Regions from separate parts of the Homo sapiens genome. Here regions 2 and 3 are each linked to region 1. Evidence: fine-mapped expression QTL. A gene starts in region 1. Each other region holds a variant in brackets. All regions are shown on one strand. Distances are between the middles of the regions.

Region 1 (8,187 bases):
AGCTGCCTCTCATTGCCAGCATATATCTCATCCTGCACCACCAAAAGAACAATCTGGTTACTCATGCTATATCACATTAATATGCAAGTTCATCACTTCAGCAAGAAAATCACAAACAAGTGGTTCATTCATGACTCATTTTATTCATAACAATCTCAAACCTGTCACCCAAAAATCAGCTTTTACAGCAACCGCTAAATGAAGTAAACATATTCACATCCGAATTCATTCATTGGTGTCCAAAAAAACTCAATATAAACAAACTGAGAGAAGATACAGTTAGTCCACTAAATGAGGATTGTTGAGAAAATGCATCATTATTTTGTAGAGAAGAAGCTTGAGTCAAGAGCAAACACAATGAATTTACACAAGTGATGACCCTTGGTTTTTATGGCTGCATTCAATAACTGCACATTAGATCGAGTCTTAAAATGAAAACTGTTTCGTGTAAAAGAGGAAAGTTGCATCCTTAGGAAAGAAACTGTTTTTATTGCAAAATTCCTGGATAATGACAAGAAAATGCTAAGATGTTACAGTAGAAAATGGATACAATTTTTTCCACCTAGGCTGAATAACTTATCAAAATAGAAAACTCCATTTTCCCTAAGGTTGGTTTATAATTAGAAATTAGATTCCTCAATAATTCAATGACCGAAATCTTTATTAAAGTCAAATGACCTTCCTAATTAAATTTTCTCCTTAATATGTAAGCTCTGCTAGGCAGGTGTTATCTCTACATATAATTAAGACTTTACATATGAATTAAATGACCTTTTTCCTCTATGGTCATCCTTTTCTTTGATTTGGCGTTCTAACAGTCAATTAGTGGTAAAACTTTTTAAAGTACAACAAATTACTAATGCATTCTGGTACGTGCTCTGATTTTTATACTTGTCCCTATTTTTTATTCCATCTTGAAAAATATTCAAACTTAAATATTTTACTCTTCTACATTTCTTTTTTCAAATTATTCCAAAAGAACATAGCTAGTGTGGGGAGATGTGTACAATTTTATTATAACATTAGGAAGAATGTTAGAATTTCAAAACCTAGAATGTAGAATTGTGGTATGTGCATACAACTGACATTAAGTTCAAAAGCTCTGACCACAAACAATGCACTTGCATACAATATAGGCTCATCCAAGTAAATATATGGGAGATGCATAAAAATATGGTAATTTCATTTGAAATACTTACAGTTTTAATCTTTAAGTATTTGTTTAAAAAACAAAAATAGTTAAATAACTCTTAAGGTGTCATGACAAAAATGCCCTGGCTTTGGAAAGCCAAAAATATGTTACCAAAACTCACTCTTTGGATGCCACTTTATATCTCGTAAATTTCATTGGCAACAAATCAAAGAAAGTAACTGTTATATGTTTGAAATCCATCACTTCACCAAAAGTCTAAGATGACGTAGGCAAAATGCTTTACCTTCACTTTGTTCATTAATCAAAAAAAATATAAAAATGAGGTGTAGTGATTAAGTGAATTACTCAAGGATACAAGCCAATTGTCAGCAATTTTACTTTGTTAGGCTTCTTATCTTTCTAGTTCATACAGGAAAAAAAATATCATCTGAGAGATGGAATATCATTTGAGAGAAAGGAATATGTACTTTATGAACACTAACATTTCCAAAGGAAATGTGGGAATATTCAGCTCTAAATTCTACACATCACCAAGCACTAACAAAAAAAGAAAAAAGGAACAGAAACAGGAACCTTCTGCATCCCAAGTCACGAATGAGCCAAATAAAAAGAATAAAGTACAATCTCGCCAGCATTTTTTCTTGGATACTGTACATTTCTACCTGGTTTTCTATTACTAGGAAACAGATTTCAGTTTTCATAATGCTTTTAAATGGGCTTTTCTTAGCAAATGTCTGCACTCTTCAGGCAAGGCCATTAAGGTAACTTAATCCCTCATGAATTGCTCAGTGGAAGAAATGCTGATTCCTAATTCGAAAATTAATTCCTTAGCTGTTTCTGTATTAAGAGTCATGAGGAAAACCACAGCTACAATTTAGATTCAGAATGTTGTCTTGAAGGCTAGCAAGACAAATAGGAGCTTAGAGAACGGAAGATGATGCTGGGGGAGGGGGCGCAGAGAGAGTGCGAGAAAGATGCTGGTCAGTTCCGAGATGATGCAGGAATGACATGGCACCTGGACAACATAAGTCCACGTCCACCCCCTGCCAAGTCTGTGCCTCGGGCTCTCTCACAATTGCCTGAAGCTGTGAATAGGTGCACACGCAAACACACCACCTTTTATTCTTCGACTCTCCGGGAGGAGAATGGTGGGGAAGCGTCTCTGGATAAAGCTTCACCACAACAAACGACGTCTTTCTCCTCGCACCCCGCCTCCCCAGCTAGAGGCAGGCAACAGTAGACAGCTGAGAGGAACGAGAACCCTGGCGAGAAGGAAAGCATCTCCACCTAAGGGAGGGGGCTCGGGGGATAAAGCCCCACAGCCTCACAGGGAGCCTCACGGAGGGCGACAGGAAAAGGAGGGGGGTGTTGAGCTGGGAAAACAGGAGAGGGGCACTGGGAAGCTTTCGGCGCGCTACGCAGGGAGGCTGCCCGGGGCTGGCGCGCACCGAGGGGGTGGGGGTCGAGCCCGGGGCGGACCCCTCCCCCGACTCCCCGACTGGAGGACAGGGAGGAAATGGCTTTGTATCGCACGATGAAAGGCAGGCAGGAGGGCCACCAGGCGGGGGGTGGCAGGGGACGGAGGATGCCCAGAGCTGGAGGACCCCGCCCGCCCCACGGACACCGCCACTCTGCCCCCCATTCCACTCTGCCCCCCATTCCACCGCAGCGCCTGGTCCATCCACCCTCTGGCTCCCGCTGCCCGTCCACGTTCCAACGGCCCGCAGCGGGGTCGCCCCACTGCCGCATCCTTACTCCGCGCCCTGCGCGCTTACCTGCCCACGAAGTTCTCGAGCACCGAGCTCTTGCCGGCGCTCTGGCCGCCCACCACGGCGATCTGCGGCAGCTCCAGCAGGCAGCTCTGTCCCAGCGCCGAAAACGCGTCCTGCAGACGGTTCACCAGCGGGATCAGCTCCTCCATCTCCCGGTTCCCCATCTTGCCCGAGGGGCCGGCGACCAGCTGGTCCCTGCTCGCCTCTACGACCTGACAGGGAGTAGGGGCCGCGCTGCCCTGGCTGCTGCTGCTGCGCCGGGCTCAGCCAGCCAGGTCCTGGCGCAGACGTCGGAGCCCGCCGCCAGCCCGCCGCTTGGCTCTGACAGCTAACGACCCGCAGCGCGCCTGCGCGGGCGGGCAGGGGCGTGGCCTATCTCCGCGACGCCCCGCCCCCGCCCCGCGGCTGCCCCGCCCCGGGCTTCCCATCGGACCACCAGGCCAGGCGCGCACGCACTGCAGCCCAGCTGCGGCCAGATGCCACGGCCTCTGCGTTCTGTGGCCAAGGCTCAGAGGCCAAGTTACAGCGCCGGGTCAGGAAATGGCATGAAATCAGCAGCAGCGGCAGCGTTGTTCTCTTTCAGCGGCTACCAAGCCAAAGCCCAGTGGAAAGCACTATCGCCGCTAACACCACCACACGATCACCAGCAACAGCAGCACCGCCGCCGCCACCACCGGGGCACCGCTGCCAGACTACACTTCCCGAAAGGAAATCTCCTCTGTCACGCCCTTCTCCAGAATCCGCGATGACTCCTCCCAGGGTGGCAGGCCTGTTGGAGTCTAAATTCTTCAATGTGACATCCATCTAAGGCCCTGAGTGGTCTGACCTTACTTAATTCTTCATCTGTAATGACTCGTCCTCCCCAGCCCCGCATAAGCACAGGTAGAGTCTGTAGGGTTTACCGCCCCGATACACCCCTTTAATCACTCTGGCCTGTGAGACTCCTCATGCCATTTGCCCTCCCGGTCTATCTCCTTCTACCGGATCTATCCAGAACCAGGTACCCTGGACGCATTCTGTGAAATTTAGCACATTGAGAAGTGACTGTGTGTGGGGTCCTGTGCCTGATGATCGGGACACAAAGATAAATGGCCATGCTTCTCTTAGCCTCCACAGACGGTTCCTTTTTAGTCTGCTCCTCAAATACTGATGCTTCGCAGGGTTTCATATATGGGCATTTTCTTGTCTAATGTTTGTCCTCTGCCTGAGGACTTTCCCATAGCTTTAACTCTGAATCAAGGCTGGCGACTACAGAAATTTACATTGCTAGACCCTGTCTCTCTTCTGCAACTTAGACTGTACTCCAAGAGGAGCCCAGAATACTACCTGAGTGTCCTACAAGTACTACAGACTCAATTTATTCAAAACTGAAGTCATCTTTTGTAATCTCAGCATTTAATGTACAGTTCCTTCTAACTCTAAAAAGACATATTAAAATGTTCATAATGTCAAAAAACCTGAAAACAACCCAAATGTCTATCAACAGGTGAATGAATAAACAAACGTGGTATATATATATAGTGAAATAATCTCTGCCACAAAAAAGACTTTTGATATAGCAACAATCTCAGATACATTATGTAGAATGAAAAAGGCCAAAGACCATATTGGTTTGATTTCATGTATGTGAAGTTCTACAACCAGCAAAGCTATTCTATGGTAATAGAAATCGGAACTGTGGTTGTCTTTGAGGAGTGGAGATTGACTGTAGGAGGCATGAGGAAACTTTCTGGAGTGATGGAAATGTCCCATGTCTTGACTGGGATGTGGGCATACATTTGTCAAAACTCCTCAAACTAAACTTTTAAGTGATGTGCATTTTACTGTACATTACATCTCAACTTTTTTTTAAAGCAGCAGAAAAAGACAAATAAAACTGAATGCATCTCCACTGAAGTGGATCTCTATTAGAATGTCTGCCCAGGAAACCTTTTCTAAGAAACACTCCATCCAATGCATGGTTGTAGCCAGAGCAGTCATGAAGATAGAAAGGCATGAAGAAAAACTGAGCCCTGGCCATAGCTGTGTGCACCAGATTGGGCACCTGACTTGAGCTTTACCAATCAAAGCCTTTTCCCAGGAGTATGCAATTGAGAGAGAGATTGGCCTTTGTCTGAGTGACTGAACTATAAGTGAGGAATAACATTGGCAACTATGGTTAGTAAGATTTCACCAGTAGAAGGGAAGTGCTCATCTTCAGAGAAAGAGAAAAGTGAAAAGACACAAGGAGAGGAGCACAGGGAAAGAAGAGGGAAGATCCGGATAGTACCTGTATCCTCAATCTTGTTCATGTCTGATGTCCAACTGTAATCCTGTCCTCAGTTCCTTGTACAACCTCCCCGCCAATAAACTTATAATAAATTCTCCTCTTTGCCTAACCTAATTCAACTCATATTTCTTTTACTTGCAGTCAAAGAATCCTATAAATACATTCTCACACTAGAGATAGTGTGCTCCCTATCTCAGGGACAAGCCTGCCCAATCCCAATCCAGAATCTGGAAGTCATTCTCACTTCATTTTTCCCTCTCTCTCCTTCATCCCCTACACCAAATTGGTACCCAAATAATACCCATTCTACCTTCCTAGAAGCCATTTTCTGTCCATCCTTGCTGCCAGTGCCTCAGTTACAACCATCATTTCTCAAACAACCGTTTTCCTCTATGCTTTTCATATATACACATATATACATATATATATGTACCCTGAATAGATTTTCATTCTTGCCCTTGGCATATTGCATTAAGTCACTAATTTACATGTCCCTCTCTTTCACTATAATGCCCTTCCCAAAGATGTCCACATTTTAATCCCTGGAACCTGTGAATGTTTCCTGAAGTGGCAAATGGGCCTTTGTAGATATAATTAAGGACCTTGGGATGGGAAGATTATTCTAGATTATCTAAGTGGATGCACTCTACTCACATGAATTCTTAAGAGCAGAGAACATTTCCAATCTGCATCAGAGGGAGATATAACTGGGGAAGGGTCCCCGAGATGCATGGAGAAAGGGGACCATGAGCCAAGAAATGCAGGCAGCCTCTAGAAAGTGGAAAAGGCAGGAAACACATTCTCCCTCAGAGCCTCCAAAAAAAATTTTTTTTTTTTTTTTGAGATGCAGTCTCGCTTTGTCGTCCAGGCTGGAGTGCAATGGCACAATCTCAGCTCACTGCAACCTCCGCCTCCTGGGTTCAAGCAATTCTCTCACCTCCGACTCCCAAGTAGCTGGGACTACAGGCGTGCACCACCACATCTAGCTATTTTTTTTTTGTTTCGTATTTTTAGTAGAAACGGGGTTTCACCATGTTGGCCAGGCTGATCTCAAACTCCTGACCTCAAGTGATCCATCTGCCTCGGCCTCCCAAAGTGCTGGAATTACAGGCTTGAGCCACCATGACCAACCCTGCATCAGACTTCTAATGCACGGCACTGTAAGATAATAAATCTGTGTTGTTTGAAAACACTAAGTATGTGGTAACTTGTTACAGTAGCAATAGAAAATTAATACAACTCCTTGAGGGCAGGATCCATCTTTGTGATTCTCAATGTCCGGCACAGTGCATAGCACGTGAGAAGACCACAGTCCACTGGCAGCAGACATAAACAAATTGTTACAACACACATAATATGTTCCAGGGTACAATAGGCTGAACTGTGCCTCCCCCAAATTCATATGTTGATACCCTGAACCCCAGTGTGGCTATATTTGGAGAAAGTAATTGTATTAGTCCGTTCTCACAACGCTATGAAGAAATACCTGAGACCGCGTAATTTATAAAGGAAAGAAGTTTAATAGACTCACAGTTCCACATTCCTCAGGAAGCTTACAATCATGGTGAAAGGTACCTTTTCATGGGGTGGCAGGACTGAGTGAGTGGAAGCAGGGGAAATGCCAGACACTTATAAAACCATCAGATCTCATGAGAACTCACTCACTATCACGAGAACAGCATGCAGTAAACCACCTCCATGATTGAATCACCTCCACCTGGTCCCACCCTTGACACATGGGGATTATGGGGATTACAATTCAAGATGAGATTTTGAGTGAGGACACAGCCAAACTATATTAGCAATTAAGGTTAAATGAAGTCATAAGGAGGAAACCCTGATTCAATAGGATTAGTGGCCTTGTAAGAGGAGACATCAGAGAGCTCTCATGCTGGCTGGCTCCCCCCACCCCTCCCATCTCTCTGTCTCTCTCTTCCCCCTCCACTGCCCTCCTCATCATGTGAGGACACAGCAGGAAGGTGGCCATCTACAAGGCAGGAGAGTCCTCATCAGGAACAGAATCAATGAGTACCTTGATCTTAAACATCTCAGCTTCCAGAACTATGAGAAATAAATATCTGTTGTTTAAGCTACCCAGTCCTTGGTATTTTGTTACAGCAGCCCATGCTGACCAAGACATAGAGTTTGCTTAAAGAAACGTGATGAAACCCGAGGAGTAACAACTCTGTCAGGAGAGAGTCATGGAAAGCTTAGCTGGGCCTTGATAAGTACATCCTGCACTCTGCTACATGCTGTAAGGTACAAAGGATCAGGAGAACTAGCCCTTGCCCTAAGTATTTTGCATTCTAATGTAGAAGACAATGCTACCATGCATTAGACAAAAAATGTATAGCCATTATACAAATGTAAAGTTCACGTGCACTGAAGCAATGCCTGTCATCTCTATGCTCCAGAATTTAGTTCAAATTAGTTTCACCCACCTACTTTAAGAAACCATCCTAAACACTCTTGCCAATTGCTTTCCTTCTTTACTTTCCATTTCTAGAATCAATACTGTGATGACACGGAATTAAGAGAAATCTAACACACACAAAAACACTCAACTCAAGGTCTTTCAGTGATGTAGACCTTTTCTTATAAGCTAATATGGATAAAAGAAATAGCAAAAGAAAACCTAAAGGGAAAAAGCAGAGGGAAAATTTTGACAAAAACAAACTTTCACCTTTAAGGGTGATATGGTATGGCTGTGTTCCCACCCAAATCTAATCTTGAATTGTAGCTCCCATAATTCCCGTATGTTGTGGGAGAGACACAGTGGGAGATAATTGAATCATGGGGATGGTTTCCCCCATACTGCTCTCGTGGTAGTGAATAAGACTCACAAGATATGATGGTTTTATAAGGGGAAACCTCTTTCATTTGGTTCTCATTTCTCTCTTGTTGGCTGCCATGTAAGACATGGCTTTTGCCTTCTGCCATGATTGTGAGGCCTCCTTACCCACGTGGAACTGTGAGTTCATTAAACCTCTTTT
Region 2 (8,187 bases), 570 kb before region 1:
TCTCCCACTCTCCTGCCTTTGATTTATCCAATTTGTTCCCTTTAAAAATCCCATCTTTCTCCAAATTAATGACAGAAATGGAAAATGCTATCATTCTTTACTTTGGTAACTCTGGGACAATTTAATCAAAAGAGCTATAAATATTTAGAAGTCTCAGGTATTACTGAAAGGCATAGACATGACTCAAATATATACAAGAATGAGGAAAAGGGGTCCTTCAAATGTTATAATTTATTTCAGCTTCAGAAATACAGCTTCACATTTTCACAATAGGTACATGTGACCTTCAAGAACGATACAGGCTTTGAGATTTTTCTTCAAAAATTCCATTCTAAGAGTCCATATATCAGCATTAAGAAATCCTGAAAGTGCCAAGAAGACAGTGGAAAGTATCCGGCTCATATTAATTAAAGAATCAGCAGAGAAGACAAGATTTTACTTCTGTATATTCCTTCTTCAAACAAAGCAAAAGAAAAATTTGACCCAAAAAAGGGAAAGTAAAAATAGACAAGCAAGCAAAACAAAGGCTGTACATGTACATAGGAAATATAACACAAATCAAGTAGTACTGGTGGAATTACTGGTTGGGGGGAATAATTTTTAACAAACTGGTAGCAGACAAGGCAAGTGGTTAGACAGAGTAATTTTTGTCATAATTTTAAAACATTTCATAATGAGCGAAGTTTAAGGAATTCAAGAGTAAAAATTAAAAAGAGATTAATGACTTGAGTTGAGCCATATGTGAAACCTCCAACCAGAAGTGAGAAGTCTCACCAATATACCAGTATGAACAGGTCTTAAGACAAACACTCCTCTTTGAGTTTCCTCTCTCTTGCTCTCACACATACACACATTCTTACATATATACAAAGACACACACACACACACAAATAGCAGTGCATATATTACATATGCTTCAAAAATATTCTTAAAGTTTCACCTACACAGCACCACATAATTTTAAACATAGCAACCAGACAGGATGAGTAAGAGTATCTAGAAGACTCATTTGAGCTTTTTAGAATGTACAATGAGTGATCTGGTGAACGAATAATCATTTCTTCAAAATCATCTAGATTCATTTACATTAAACTCTGAGCTCACAGCTAGTAGTCTTCTAATTGAAATGATACAAAACTCATGGCTTAAGTCTCATACACTATCTTCTTTCATGAGTTCAACAGTTAGAGACCTAGTAGGCTTTATTCTTCATTCTGAGGAGATTCCTGTCACTTTCAAATAATTATGCCATTTGCCAAATGAAAAATGTTTACCTGAAAAAGTGGATGACCTACCTCCAAGGTATTAGATAGCTTCTCTCTTATATTTTCAGCAAATTTACTCAGAAAAATCCACTACTTTAATGTTGCTATGTCCTTTTTTTTTTTTTTTACTTCTACCATAGAGGAAAAATGACTATGTATATCAACTTGGCTTTTTAAGATTCAGCTCAGCAATCCAAAAATAATTTATAATTCCAATTAGAGATCTTAAAGATAGGTCTCCAGAGGTTTTACTTCTTACCGAAAAATATTGTCAAAGGTAATTCCTTCTTAGATTCAGATCTTCTTGTGGATTCAGATACAAATGTCTATGGACATTACCATGTTGTCATGGTAATTATGAGCTTTGTACCTCTCAAAATGACTACAATCTGGAGTTAGAAAATTTTGTATACCTCATATATGTTATGAGAAATGAACTATTGTTACCACATGTTATGGCAGATCATTCAAAGCTATCTGTTGTATTATCACAGTTTAAAAAATATCCTGATACCACACATACTAAGTACATGTATACATAGATATTTACAACCATACATATACATATATTTATATATATACACACAGTGCACATACAATCACACTCATGCTTGTGGCATTTTAACTAGTATTTTTAAAACCTACCTACCTACTCAAATGGACATAAAATACACATACTTACAGAAACATACTTACTAGGTATATGCCATATACACAGAGACACATGCATAGAAAATGTGTTTGTACACAGAAAACATCAACATTTATCACATACTGGTATTAGGTCCCATTTCATATTTGAGAATTATGGCTACAGTCTATACTAAAAAGTCACAAAATTAATCTATGTGACCACTTTTTAAGTCTAAGTCGAGAAGGCTTACAGTTACATCACAGGAACTGGTTTCATTAATATACTTTAGAATAAAGTGAGTTTGTATTGGAACAAATAGGAAATTTGCTAATAAACAGACCCTACTGCTCGTCTATGTTATAAAACACGGCTAAAAGCAATATTCAGACGAGTAACCTTGGTAGATGTTTTTTAGAAATGCAATATACTTTTTCTAAATCAATACTATTTCAATAAGCTGTCCATAATTGAGTAAATGGTTATTCCAATTAGTCAATATGCATGCAATATTTAGCATGTGACAATAAAACTATATTTACCTATCAAATAAACATTTACAGTTTATTTTCCCAAATCCTAAAAACACTGATTTTTTAAATTATGCTAGACATGATAGAGCTACATCTATTGTGTTTACAATATCAGAGCAATCAGTTAAGAGAAAATTACACAAAAGATTAGAAATGGTATGGGAAACAGAAAATCATTAAGCTACATTCCCATCTTAAGGCCTGGTGTGCATGCTGCACGTCAAACTATGCACATACTAGAGTTTCAGACTTCATTCAACATTGGCATCTCCTTTTAGCAGAATACAAACCCTTTGGGAAATGAGATTCATACTAATAATATGACATAGTACTGCAGCAAATTAAAAATATTCTCCAATGTCACTGCTGAAATTCTAGAGTAGGCTGGGTTCTATGAGAAATAACTTAGGAGTAAAGAACAAAAATGTACCCACAAAGGTAGACAATTGGGGCAGTGCAACTGTGGGACTATAATCTAAAAGCAAGTGCCAAAGATGACAAATGCCATTGTTTATTACTGCCTAAGATCAGTGGAAGGAAAATTGGAAAAAAATCTCCAATTTTTTTTGACATGGTTTGTGCTGATCTAAGAACACACCAGTGGTTATTCACAATATTTTCCTTTAACAGAAGGAAAATTTTGAAATACAGCAAAACACAAAACCACATTTAGCACAAAGCCAAACCCTGAAGTATATAATCCGTTAGCTGCCTATTTTAGAGAATTCAAAGGAAGAAGCAAAGGGAATCCTAAAAACAAGAAGTTTTATAAAAAGATCTCACTGAAGATTATTTGTTTTACTATGGATGTTTGCTTAACAGTTTTCCATTTAGCTGAGACACTATTTTAAAAATGCAGTATGTATCTTGCACATTGGTTCCATTCACAAAGAGTTAACTTTTTTTCCCCCAGTTTGGGGTTTGGGGTGAGATACGAGAGGATTTAGGATTGTGATGTTTTTATACAATCACTGGTAACCTTAAAAGTTGAAATGACCTTTATGTAAATCTTGTATTTTCTGATTTTTACCAATTATAAATGGGTTAGCATAAGCCTTTAGAATAAGTTCAATACAATGGCACTCAACATGGCAAGTTCTCTGTTTAATAATGGTTAAAAGTTTTTACTTTATACTTTATGAGTATCTGCTCTGGGTGTAAACTACACAGGAAATTAAAGTTAAGTTAACATACAAATCATGTTTGCTACTTTCAAAGGGAGACATTTCAGTTGGTGAAACCTGATTTACTTCTGTAGAATATGAAATAGTGTCATGGGACACCCCTACTCAGTGAATACTTGCTCTGCTGTCTGGGAACAGTTAGCACACAAAATTCCAGTTGGCTTCTGGCTGTTTCCTACATGTGAATCATCTGGTCCTTGGTAGTCCAAAACTTAGCCTCAAGACTTAACTATTAACCCCCAGGCTAAACTGTTCTGGTAAATTTTAGAAATCTTAAGAAATTGCAAATTTGCTTTAGATTTCAACGTTTCAATACCCTTTTCTGGAGTGACCTGGATAGGGACTTTGAAATACTGCAACTGTAAAAGTGTGAGCTCTGCTCTTATCCCATGCCATTTCTACTGACTTCATTTCAGGAACCATTCTTTAAATGTGATTATCCCATAGCCTCAAGATTTATTAAGAAAGCCTAGAATGGATATACAGTTACACTGAGCCTGTTTCAAGGGTAGGATAAATTCTTACAAAACAAGATTACAAATTAGCACGTAAAGAGTGAATTTTTTTTCCAACCAAAATAATAATAGTAAAACTGGAGTTAGTATCAAAGTGTAGTTAGCTATGCCAAATAGAAAAGTAAACATTCTCCATGTCAGCCTTCAATATAACCTACCATGAGGTGAATATAAGTAAAGAAAGAAATTATATTTTTCCCAACACTTCTAGAGATGTGATATTTTGCTTCTTCCTTGAACTCTGAAACTAATTAGCCAAATTTATTGACTGATTAACAAAAAAAGAAGCTTTTATTCACTGTTGCATATGCTTCTAGCATGAAGCAAAACACATTGGAATGAGGAGAAGCTCTTTAGAGCAAACAGTGCAGACTTTTCCTTTGCAAACTACCTCGTGCTTCTGGAAAAGTTTATTCTTAAGGAGTCCTAATTTTAAAAAATCACTTCCTAGCAGTCTTATGAAATAAAAAGGAAGAAAAGAGGAGCTAAATAGGCAATTATGGAGTAGGTAGTAGCATTAATGGTAGACAACAGAATTACTGTCATCCTAAACAGAATGTGGGAAAAGAAATATGTATGGCTTAGGTCTAAGCCCACTATCTCATATCTGAAGAATTACGTTTAATGAGCTACCTGGTAGATAGCCTAGAAAACTTGTCCAAAGCAATTTCAAATATATG[C/T]CATGGTAGGCAAATGATCCCCAAAGTATAGGGCTGCTATACAAACCTACCTTGGTCAGTACAACATATAAAGCCTCTAAAAGGTTAGCAGTTTCTGAGTCAAACCCCAAAGGTTTGACATACCATGAGCAATGAAGATGAGCGATGAATGCATTAGTAAAACTGGTTACTTGCCTACTGATGTCCACACATGCGACTACTCATGATTTACTGCAACGGTTATCAAATATGTTGCTTTCGCATAATTCATTAGTGATTAATTGCCATGCCAGACACTTCGTTTAGTCTAACAGGGAGGATTCTAGTGGGCGGATTATAGTGGGACGAGTTGGTGATGGGGGTGGTCTCCGGCTAGAAAGAGAAAAAGAGAAAGGTAAAGAAACAAGTAGAATATCTAGCAGAACATTGTTCCAAGGACACTGAGAAAGAGCCATTACACACATGCTCATGCACATACAGGCCAGCAGAAGTGGTTATGATCTGTAATGATTTTAACATTGTCACCTTTCATTTATCTAGTAGTTTTAATGAAAATTACGTCTTTTTTCATATGCAAATCTTTCTCAAAACTGAAGTCATTCCTTCCAATACTAATAAGAAATATGAAACTATTTGAAAGCCATCTGAAACGTACTGCACATATCTTAGCCAATAGAATATAATAATTACATAGAATGAACTCAGGAACTAATAAGGTATACTGTTTCAGACAATGATGGCTTTTGAATTTTTATTTCTCACATATAATTTTCCTTTTTCTTTCAGGATATTATTATCACTTCTCATTGCCTTTTTGACTTTCTCCAATTTGTTCTATATTATGCTTGTAATTTACAGAGCACTAAAAATCAGAAAAGCAAGTCTTTAGAGTTCTCTGTAGCAAGTGTAAATAGGCTCAGTGTTGAGTGCCTGTTTAAATTGCAGGAGCTCTAGTTCCTATTTTGGGTCTTAAAGACTTTAGTATTGGTATTAGTAGTATTACTCACTTTCTAGTTGGTAATGATGTTTCTGGTAGCTGAGTTTACTAAGCAAACGTACTTTAGATAATGAAATATTACTGTATTTGAGAGTCTCAACATTACCAAGTAATATTATTTATTACTTATTTATTCCTCAAGCTTCTACATTTATTTCCTAAATATATTAATAAGTTTTTTTAGTGTATTTGTGTACTTGACTTCATATATGGTATCTTGGGTAGTCATTTTTTTACCCCCCCAAATTTGACAAAGTCTACAAATTGAAATGTTTCTTTTTGATAAAACTCTGCAACTGATTTTTTCAGAAAGACTCCTTCTGGAATTATAGTCATAAATTTTTCTTCTGTATTAGAAACTCTATATTGATCAAATTGAATGTCCTTTCTCAGGTATGAAGAAGTGAAGTTAGAAAAATTTAAGAAAACTATTATGAAAAATAGTTTTGAAAAATAGTTTTGAAAAAAATAGTTGTTGAAAAATCATGGAACTATAAAATTAAATTACACGATCAAGGAAAAATCAAAGCAGGAGAGATATTGTTGATTAATGGTGAAAATATTAACTATTTAGGCACAAACTCATAGATATTAGTAGAATTCCTTTTACCTCATGCACTTGAAAAATGTGTAAGAGGCTTCAAAGGAAATCTTTCTTTGGGGAGGTACAAAGCACTGGAATTACAGGTGTGAGCCATGGTACCCAGCCTTATTTTCATTTAAAATGGCCATATATGTTTAACTTATGTCCTGAATCTTGAATCTGCATAATTTTCTTCTTTGATAGGAAGTTTCTGAAGGGCGCAGGTCACACCCACTTAACTTGTTTCATACAGTGTTTAGCATGGTGTTACATGCAATTACATTCTCAATGTCATTTTGGTCATCTTCTGAGACTACTAACTAATCATTTAAGACTTACTTCAGTGAAGCCTTCCCTGACCTGCCTTCCCCTCTCCTGATACAGTTGTTTGTATAGCATCTCAACAAATCTCTATTATTAGTCATCACACTGAACTCTAATTAGGCTTATATGTTATCTTCACTGATGAGAAATGAGCTGTCTCTTAATCATCTTCATGTAACTGTGGTATCTAGCTCACTGCTTGTCATTCAGTCACTGAATGTTTGATAACTGAATGAATGAAAGTTCCTCCTAGAATCAAGAAATAACTAATGAATGCTTGTGATATTCATTGGTCTTATAAATACAAGGATATTTGTGAGTAAATCATGGCCATGGCAAAAAAAAAAAAGTAGCTAAAGTGACATGTAGGATTGAGATCCTTGGTGACTCTAAAGTATCTAACTGCTCAGTTCTTTAGTAGATATTTGGAATAAATACCAAATAATAAGCCCCCTGCCCTCAGGGAGTTTGTCAAATAATCATGTAACCTATGGAAATGTATTCTTAGCAATTAACCAGTTGGCTGGTGGGAGGAGAGAACTGGCCAGAATTTGAGCTTTAAGGAGGGAAATTCTACCAGAAGTTTTGATAATGGAATTAATTAGGTGATTTCATTAAATAAAAAGTTGATTTTAGACTACAAATTCAGTGAGAAGTAGGATACAGCATGGCATGATGGATTGGAAATCGTTTCATGAATATGTGATAGCTTGGATCAAGGCTTGTAGCCAAGAGAGAAAGGAATGAAACTGACTTCTCTTGATCCTTTTGTTCTTGGCTTAACTGTTATTCCTCAGTCCTTCTGGACCATCCCATAGTTTTCCTGACTTCCTCTGCCTTCCCCTATGACTTCATGTTTGTGTCTCTCGTAGCACGTAACCCTACTTGTGATTATGTATTTATTTACTAGATTATTACCAGTGTCCCCCAAATAGATTCAAAATTCCTTGAGAAAAGAAACCACATATTTTGCATTTATTATGTGTATTCAGCATTTGGTACAATGTGATTAGAAAGCAGTGGTTAAGTATTTGTTGAATAATGGACAAATGAAGAAATGACTGAAAAGTGCCTAAACAAGATATTTAGCCAGGCTAGAGTTTAGGCTAGATCAAGGTGAGTAGGTCTAGCGAGGCCAAGGATGCTACACTTTTAAGGCATTTATCAGAAGCTTATATTTGAGATACTATGTTTACATAGAAAGAGTCCTGGATCAGAAGTTAGAAAATGTGGATTCTAGCTCCAGTTGCCAAATTGTACAATCAGACTAGATGATCTATGTCAAGACTTCCAGTTATATATTGCATAGATTATTTATTGAGCATCTAATATGTGGACTGCTTCATGCTACATGACTTTAAAGAGCTCAGCATCTATTCAGAATGGAAGATGAGTGGAATAAAACAAATATGAAAGTAGCTTTATTATAGTACTTCATTTTAAGTGGAAAAGTGGGGCAAAATTTTGTAATTCGGAGTCTGAGAATACACTCTGGG
Region 3 (8,187 bases), 82 kb before region 1:
TAACATAGTTTAGTAGTTCTAACAGTTTTTTAGTGGACTCTTTAAGTTTTTCTATACATGTGATCACATCATCTTCAAATAGAGATAATTTTACATCTTCCTTTCCAGGGTAGATGCCTTTTATTTCTTTCTTTCCCCAGCTGTCCTGGTTAGAACCTACCGTACAATGTTGAATAAGAGTGACAAGAGCAGACATCCTTGTATTATTACTGATTTTAGACAGAAAGCATCCAGTCTGTCACCATTAAGTATGATGGTAGCTATGTGGTTTTCATATAAGCCCTTTACCAGGTTGAGGAAGTTCCTTCCCCTTTATTTACTAAGAGTTTTATCATGAATGCATGTTAGATTTTGTCAAATACTTTTTCTGAATCTATTGAGGTAATTCTGTGATTTTTTTTCATTCCACTGATATGATTTTCAGATGTTAAACCAATCTTACATTCCCGGGATAAAACAAGCTCATTCTGAAATTCATATTGAACTTCAAGAGACCCAGGATAGCCAAAACAATCCTGAAAAAAAATAAAGTAGAAGGACTTGCAATTCTCAATTTGAAACTTACCACAAAGCAAGGGTAATTAAGAGAGTATGCTATTGGCCCAAGGATAGACATAAATATCAGTCGAAAAGAACTGAGAGTCCCAAAATAAACCTGTATTTCTCTGGTCAACAGATTTTTGACAAAGGGGCCAAGATCCTACAGTGAGGAAAGAATAGTCTTTTCAACAAATTGTGCTGGGACTAGTGGATATCCACATGCAGAAAATAAAGTTTGACACTTAGTGCATAAAATTATTAACTCAAAATGGATCAAAGCACAAACAAATGGAAAAACATCCCATGCTCATGGATTGGAAGAATCAATATGGTTAAAATGACTATACTGCCCAAAGCAATCTACAGATTCTATGCAATTCCTATCAAATTACCAACATCATCTTTCACAGAATTAGAAAAAACAATACTAAAATTAATAGGGAACCAGAAGAGAGCCCAAATAGCCAAAGCAATCCTAAGCAAAAAGAACAAAGCCAGAGGCATCACATTACCCAACTTCAAACTACTCTATACTAAACTATACAAGGCTATAGTAACCAAAACAGCATGGTACTTGTATGAAAATAGACACATAGATCAATGTAAAAGAACAGAGAACTCAGAAGTAAAGCCACATATTTTCAACCAACACGTCTTCCACAAAGTCAACAAAAACAATGAGGAAAGAACATCCTACTCAATAAATGGTGTTGGGAAAACTGCCTAACCATATGCAGAAGAATATAACTGGACCCCTATCTCTCACCATATACAAAAATTAACTCATGATGGATTAAAGACTTAAATGTAAGTCCTCAAACTATAAAAATTCTAGAAGAAAACCTAGGAAAAACTTCTCCAGACATCAGCCTAGGAAAAGGACTTCTCACTAAGACCCCAAAAGCAATGCAACAAAAACAGAAATAGACAAACGGGACTTAACTAAACTAAAGACATTATGCACTGCAAAAGAAACTACCAACAGAGTAAACAGACGATCTACAGGATGAGAGAAAATTTTTGCAAACTATGCATCCAATAAAGGACTAATATCCAGAATCTATAAGAACTTTAAACAAATCAACAAGAAAAAAACAAATAACCCCATTAAAAAGTGGGCAAAGGCCAGGCACGGTGGCTCACACCTGTAATCCCAGCACTTTGGGAGGCCAAGGCAGGCAGATCACGAGGTCAGGAGATTGAGACCATCCTGGCTAACATGATGAAACCCCATCTCTACTAAAAATACAAAAAAAAATTAGCCAGGTGTGGTGGTGGGTACCTGCAATCCCAGCTACTCGGGAGGCTGAGGCAGGAGAATGGCATGAACCCAAGAGGCGGAGCTTGCAGTGAGCTGAGATCGCACCACTGCACTCCAGCCTGGGTGACAGAGCAAGACTCTGTCTCAAAAATAAAAATAAAATAAAAAGAATTTAAAAAAAGTGGGCAAAGGGCCGGGCATGGTGGCTCATGCCTGTAATCCCAACACTTTGGGAGACCGAGGTGGGTGAATCACCTGAGGTCAGGAGTTCAAGACCAGCCTGGCCAACATGGTGAAACCCCGTCTCTACTAAAAATACAAAAAATTAGCCGGGCGTGGTGGTGGGCACCTGTAATCCCAGCTACTCAGGAGGCTGAGGCAAGAGAATCACTTGAACCCAGGAGGCAGAGGTTGCAGCGAGCCGAGATCCCGCCACTGCACTCCAGCCTAGGCAAGAAGAGCGAGACTCCATCTCAAAAAGGGGGAAAAAAAAAAGTGGGCAAAGGACAGGAACAGACAATTCTCAAAAGAATACATAAAAGCAGCCAACAAACATAAGAAAACAATGCTCAACATCATTAATCATCAGAGAAATACGGATCAAAACTACAATAAGATATCATCTCATACCAGTCAGAATGGCTATTGATATGTTTAGGCTTTGTGTCCCCACCCAAATCTCATCTTGAATTGTAATCCCCATAATCTTCACAATCCCCACATGTCAAGGGAGAGACCAGGTGGAGGTAATTAATGGGGGGCAGTTTCCCCCATGCTGTTCTCATGATAGTGAGTTCTCATGAGATCTGATAGTTTTAAGGGGCTCCTCCCCTTTGCTTGGCTCTTCTCCTTCCTGCCACCTTGTGAAGAAGGTGCCTTGCTTCCCCTTTGCCTTCCACCATGATTGTAAGTTTCCTGAGACCTCCCCAGCCATGCTGAACTGTGAGTCAATGAAACCTCTTTCTTTTATAAAATACCCAGTCTTGGGCAGTTCTTCATAGCAGTGTGAAAATAGACTGATACAGCTATTGTTAAAAAGTCAAAAATAACCCATGATGGCAGGGCTGCAGAGAAAAGGGAACACTTATAAACTATTGGTGGGAATGTAAATTAGTTTAACCCCTATGGAAAACAGTATAGAGAATTCTCAAAGGACTAAAAATAGAACTACCATTTGACCCAGCAATCCCACTACTGGGTAGCTACCCAAAGGAAAAGAAATTATTATTTCAAAAAGATACCTATACTTGTATGTTTACTGCAGCACTATTCACAACAGCAAAATCATGGAATCAACCTAAGCCCACCAACAGTTGACTGGATAAAGAAAACAGGGGACACATACACCATAGAATACTATGCAGCCATAAAAAAGAATGAAATCATGTCCTTCACAGCAACATGGACTGAGCTGGAGGCCATTATTCTAAGAGAAATAACAGAAATAGGAAATAAAATACCACACATTCACACTTACAAGTGTGAACTAAACAGTGGGTAAACATGGACATAAAGATGGGAAAAACAGATGCAAAGAACTCCAAAAGGGGGAAGAGTGGAAGAGGGGTGAAGGTTGAAATTCTACCTATTGGGGACTGCGTTTACTATTTGGGTGATAGTTTCACTAGAAACCCAAACCTCAGCATTACACATTATGCAATATAACAAACCTGTACCTATCCCCAAATCTAAAATGAAATTTAAAATTTAAAAATTAGTAATTTTAAAAAATGGATCAAAGACCTAAGTGGAAGATCAAAGCTATAAATCTCCTAGAAGAAAACATAGAATAAAGTTTTATAACCTTGGTTTTGGCAAAGGATTCTTAGATATATACAAAAATAACGAGAAATGAAAGAAAAAAGTAGATAAATTGGACTTCACCAAAATAAAAAATCTTGTGCTTCAAAGGACACTGCCAAGAAAATGAAAAGGGCCTATAAAATAGAAAAAAAAAATGCAAATCAAATATCTGATATGGGACTTGTATTTAATATATATCTGTTACAATTCAGTAATACAAAGGCAAATAACCAAATTTAAAACTAGGCAAAGGAAATGAATACACATTTATCTAAATAATATATACAAATGATCATTAAGCACATGAAAAGATGCTCAGTATC[T/C]TTAGTCATTAGGAAAACGCAAGTCAAAACCACAGTGAGATATCACTTCTTACCCACAAGGGTTAGCAAGGATATAGAAAAACTGTAACCCTCATACACTGCCGGTAGGAATGTAAAATGGGGCAGCTGCTTTGAAAACAGTCTGTCAGTTCCTTAAACAATTAAACAGAGAGTTACTACATGGCCCAGCAATTATACTCAGGTATATTTCTAAGAGAAATGAAAACACATGTCCACACAGAAACATGTACATGAATGTTTATAGCAACATCATTCATAATAACCAAAGGGTGGAAACAACTCAAATGCTCCTCAGTTAACGAATGGACAAACAAAATGTGATCTATCCAGACAATGGAATATTATTAGGCCATAAAAAGAAATGAAGTTCTAATACATGCTACGACATGGATGAACCTTGAAAAGATTATGCCAAGCAAGAAAAGCCTATTACAAAAGACCACATATTAAATGATTCTATTCATATGACATGTCCAGAATAGGGAAATCCATAGAGACAGAACATAGGTTAGTAGTGCCTAGGCTGGAGTGGTGGGGAAAGGTGTTATGAAAAGAGGTGACAGCAGAAACATACAGGCTTTCTTTTGGGAGTGATCAAACAGTTCTAAAGCTGATTGTGGAGATGGTTGCACATATCTGTGAAAAGACTAAAATCTATTCAACTGTTAACTTCTATTGGTCAAGTTGTATGGTATGTAAACTGTATCTTTAACAAGCTATTAAAAATATTTGCAATTTATGATAGATGATTTTTATGAGGTGCTTCAGTCTTAAGCATTCAAAGAAATTGATAGGAAAACTAGTAAAATCCCCAAAAAGAAATGGGGAAAAAGAAAAATGGCCAATTCACGAGAGAAGAAATACAAATGGCAAATAAACATGAAAAAAAAATTCAACATCATCAGTTGCTGAAATAAAATGAAAATAAAAACAAAGCATCATTTACCTATCAAATTATCATGATGTAAGAGAGAGAAGGAAGCATAGCACAGTGTAAATATAGATACGCACATACACATCCATACAGATATTATATGGTTGTTGAATTTTATGAGTTAATCCCCAAGTGCATGTGCATGCACACATACGCACACACACACACACACACACACACACACACAAAGCATACCAAAGGAGTATTAGTGGTTGTGCTGTACTGTAAAATTATATAGATGGATTACAATGAGCAATAAAACATTTTTTTAAGTAGGTATTTTAAAAAAATCTATGAAAATATCCCCTTTAATGTAATCAAAGGAATGAAAAGAGCAATGAAGAAGGCAGCATTCTGGAGAGAAATGTGGGCAGCTGCCCACAGTGGGGCGATCACAAAAACGTTTCTATTTGTACAATCCCACACCTATGAAGGCAAAAGGGGCCACAGGATGTGCCCATCCATGCGGTAAACATCTTCATTCATTACCTGCTTTAGAAGTAACAAGCTGCAGCACAAGAGGTCGTCTTGTTACAATGCCCGACCCTCGAGGGAGAAAGTCCCTAAAAAAAGTAAGAAATACAGATTAAGGCATGAAGGAATTCTTATCACCTGTACATTCATAAACCAAGTTCCACAGCAATTCTCCTAATTCCCAACCTTTCAATGTATCGCTTATCCAAACAATGATAGGCCCATCTTAATAAAAGAAGCATTTTCAAATTTAAAAAAAAGGAGGAGGAGGGCCTTATATTGCACAGAAATCCATGTACATTATCATAATGACTTCACTGGAATATGTCATTCATTCATCTAGCTGAAACTGATAAAAGTTTGCCCTTAGTTTCTGTGTATTATCAATGAATTTTGATTTTCAGAGAATCAGCATTAAAGAAAATATGTGATACTGAAATTAATTCTTAAACTCTTTTTGATAATTAAAAAACCCAGTACGCTCTTTGGCCTCAAGATCAATATTAGCACCATCATATACCACTACTAAAGGCACATTAGATTGTATCCTCTAAATATACTGACACTTTTCTCCAATAAAAGGAAACAAGGCCGGGCACAGTGTTCCACACCTGTAATCCCAGCACTATGGGAGGCTGAGGCTGGTGAATTGCTTGAGTCCAGGAGTTCAAGACCAGCCTGGACAACATAGCAAAAACCCAGCGCTACAAAAAAAAAAAGAAAAAAAAAAACCCTACAAAAACTAGCCAGCCAGACGTGGTGGCGTGGGCCTCTAGTCCCAGCTACCCAGAAGGCTGAGGTGGGAGGATCGCTTGAGCCTGGGAGGCAGAGTTGCAGTGAGCCAATGTCGCACCACTGCACTCCAGCCTGTGCAACAGAGTGAGACTCTTGTCTAAAAAAAAGGACACATAAAATGTGGGATCAAGTAGAAATAAGTATTTTGTCTATAGAAATTAACAGCAGAAAACAAACATTGCAAATTGAGTTTTGTTTGTTCTCATTCCATTTGTTCTTATTCCTGATAAATGGACGTTTTGATAAAGATCATATTTTAAATGACATATTAATAAACACTAAGCTAATAAAACTGCAGCAAAGATAGTACTACATAATATTACATCTGCAATGCCACATAAATTATTGCTGATTCTGCAATGTCGAAGAATTCAAAAACATACCTATAGCACAGTTTTTAAACACATTTAGAATGTCTCACAACTTTTAGAGGAATCATCACAGAATTCCATTCAAAATAAACTTTTCACTCAGTGGCAGTTTTTCTCAAAATGTGGTTCCAGGCCCATCAGAAAGTATTATAACCACAGACACCCAGGACTCATCCTGAAGCTACAGATTCATCATATTCAGGGGAAGGCATGCAGCATTTGTACTCTTAACAAGCTCCCAGATGTTTCTGATGCTCACCAAGGTTTGAAAACCACTGGCCTCAAGTCAGGATATGTTACTCAACAATTCAGTGGGCAATAATGGCATGTGGCGTGCTATGAGTTTTGTAGGAAATTTGGCAGAACAGAGCTTCAACACAGATGGGATTTCAATGAACAGCAGCTTATAAAATAGGCAAAGGACAGTGAGAATGCTCCAAAACCCAAGTGTTTAGCTGCACTGATAGTTTGGAATGGAGAGTCAAAAAGATAAAATCAAGCCAAATTTCTCCTACTACAACTAATTTATTTGGCAAGTGCTACTGTGTGTTCTGACAGAGGAAATAGTACTGAACAACCTTAAGTTAATGACTTTTCTCATTGACTTCAAGGACCAAAGTTCATTTAGAATGTCAACGTATATGACTACAATAGAAAATAGTGAAATTACAAATTTGTATGTGCTTTTGAAAATGCGACTGAAATACCATTATTTATTCATCAAAAAAAATTCACTGAGAAATTAAGAAGTGCTAGGGAGATGCTGTGGGCATGGACTCATGCTGGGTAGACACCAGGAGTTCGGAACCTAATGGGAACAAAACATAGTCATGAAAACCATTAAAGAAGGGAAGATAAACTACATTGGAGTTCAGAAAAGAGAAAGAACAATACTCTCTTTATAATGATGTTTTGAATATATTTAAATACATATAACTAAATACACTTTTAATATTCTTCATGCGCTATATTAGAATAACTGCTAGTTTAGATGGCTTCAACAATCATTTAAAATTTAATCAAAATAAACAAAGCATCTACTTTGTTTTGTTTGTTTTATTTTTAACCAAAAAGGAACAGGTTAATTTGAGAATCAAAATGAATGCAGGGAGGGAAAAAAGCAAAACTCCAGAGTAAAGAGCTGGAGGGCACCATGGAATACTGTTCAGCCATAAAAAAGGATGAGTTTATGTCCTTTGCAGGGACATGGATAAAGCTGGAAACCATCATTCTCAGGAAACTAACACAAGAACAGAAAACCAAACACCGCATGTTCTCACTCATAAGTGGGAGTTGAACAATGAGAACACATGAACACAGGGAGGGGAACATCACACACCAGGGCCTGTCAGAGGGTGGGGGGCCAGGAGAGGGACAGCATTAGGAGAAATACCTAATGTAGATGACGGGTTGATGGGTGCAGCAAACCACCATGGCATGTGTATACCTATGTAACAAACCTGCATGTTCTGCATATGTATCCCAGAACTTTAAAGTATAATAATAAAAAAAATTTAAGTCAGGATATAAAAATAAAAAGAGCTGGAGGGCATCTGTTTGAGCCGTGAGGACCATGAGTGAAATTTTAGGATGTATAAAATGCCAAGGAAAAATGATGAATGGCCTGAATAATGCCATTTAACAAGTCAATAAAATATTTTCTTC

The links. PIP is the estimated chance that this variant, and not a neighbour inherited with it, causes the effect. A credible set is the group of variants that fine-mapping cannot tell apart.
Region 2: its variant is the best candidate, but not a certain one, in a credible set for the expression of DNM3 in whole blood (INTERVAL, PIP 0.75).
Region 3: its variant is the best candidate, but not a certain one, in a credible set for the expression of DNM3 in whole blood (TOPMed, PIP 0.79).

What each region holds. Positions count from the first base shown.
Region 1 is chr1:171,836,559-171,844,745 of GRCh38, reverse strand. DNM3 (dynamin 3) reads right to left here and starts at 3,248. Exons shown (of 21, transcript NM_015569.5): 1 at 2,929-3,248. The coding sequence starts at 3,089. RefSeq lists an enhancer at 2,824-3,003 and a silencer at 3,204-3,433.
Region 2 is chr1:172,404,744-172,412,930 of GRCh38, reverse strand. It overlaps DNM3 (dynamin 3), which reads right to left. Exons shown (of 21, transcript NM_015569.5): 21 at 214-5,159. The coding sequence ends at 5,090. All of the region lies in intron 1 of LOC102724528 (a long non-coding RNA gene), which reads left to right. Among named protein-coding and RNA genes, the nearest start is that of C1orf105, 12 kb to the left of the region's middle. The variant C/T (reference allele first, on the strand shown) is at 4,809.
Region 3 is chr1:171,919,006-171,927,192 of GRCh38, reverse strand. DNM3 (dynamin 3) reads right to left here. Exons shown (of 21, transcript NM_015569.5): 2 at 5,372-5,445. Among named protein-coding and RNA genes, the nearest start is that of DNM3-IT1, 59 kb to the right of the region's middle. The variant T/C (reference allele first, on the strand shown) is at 3,928.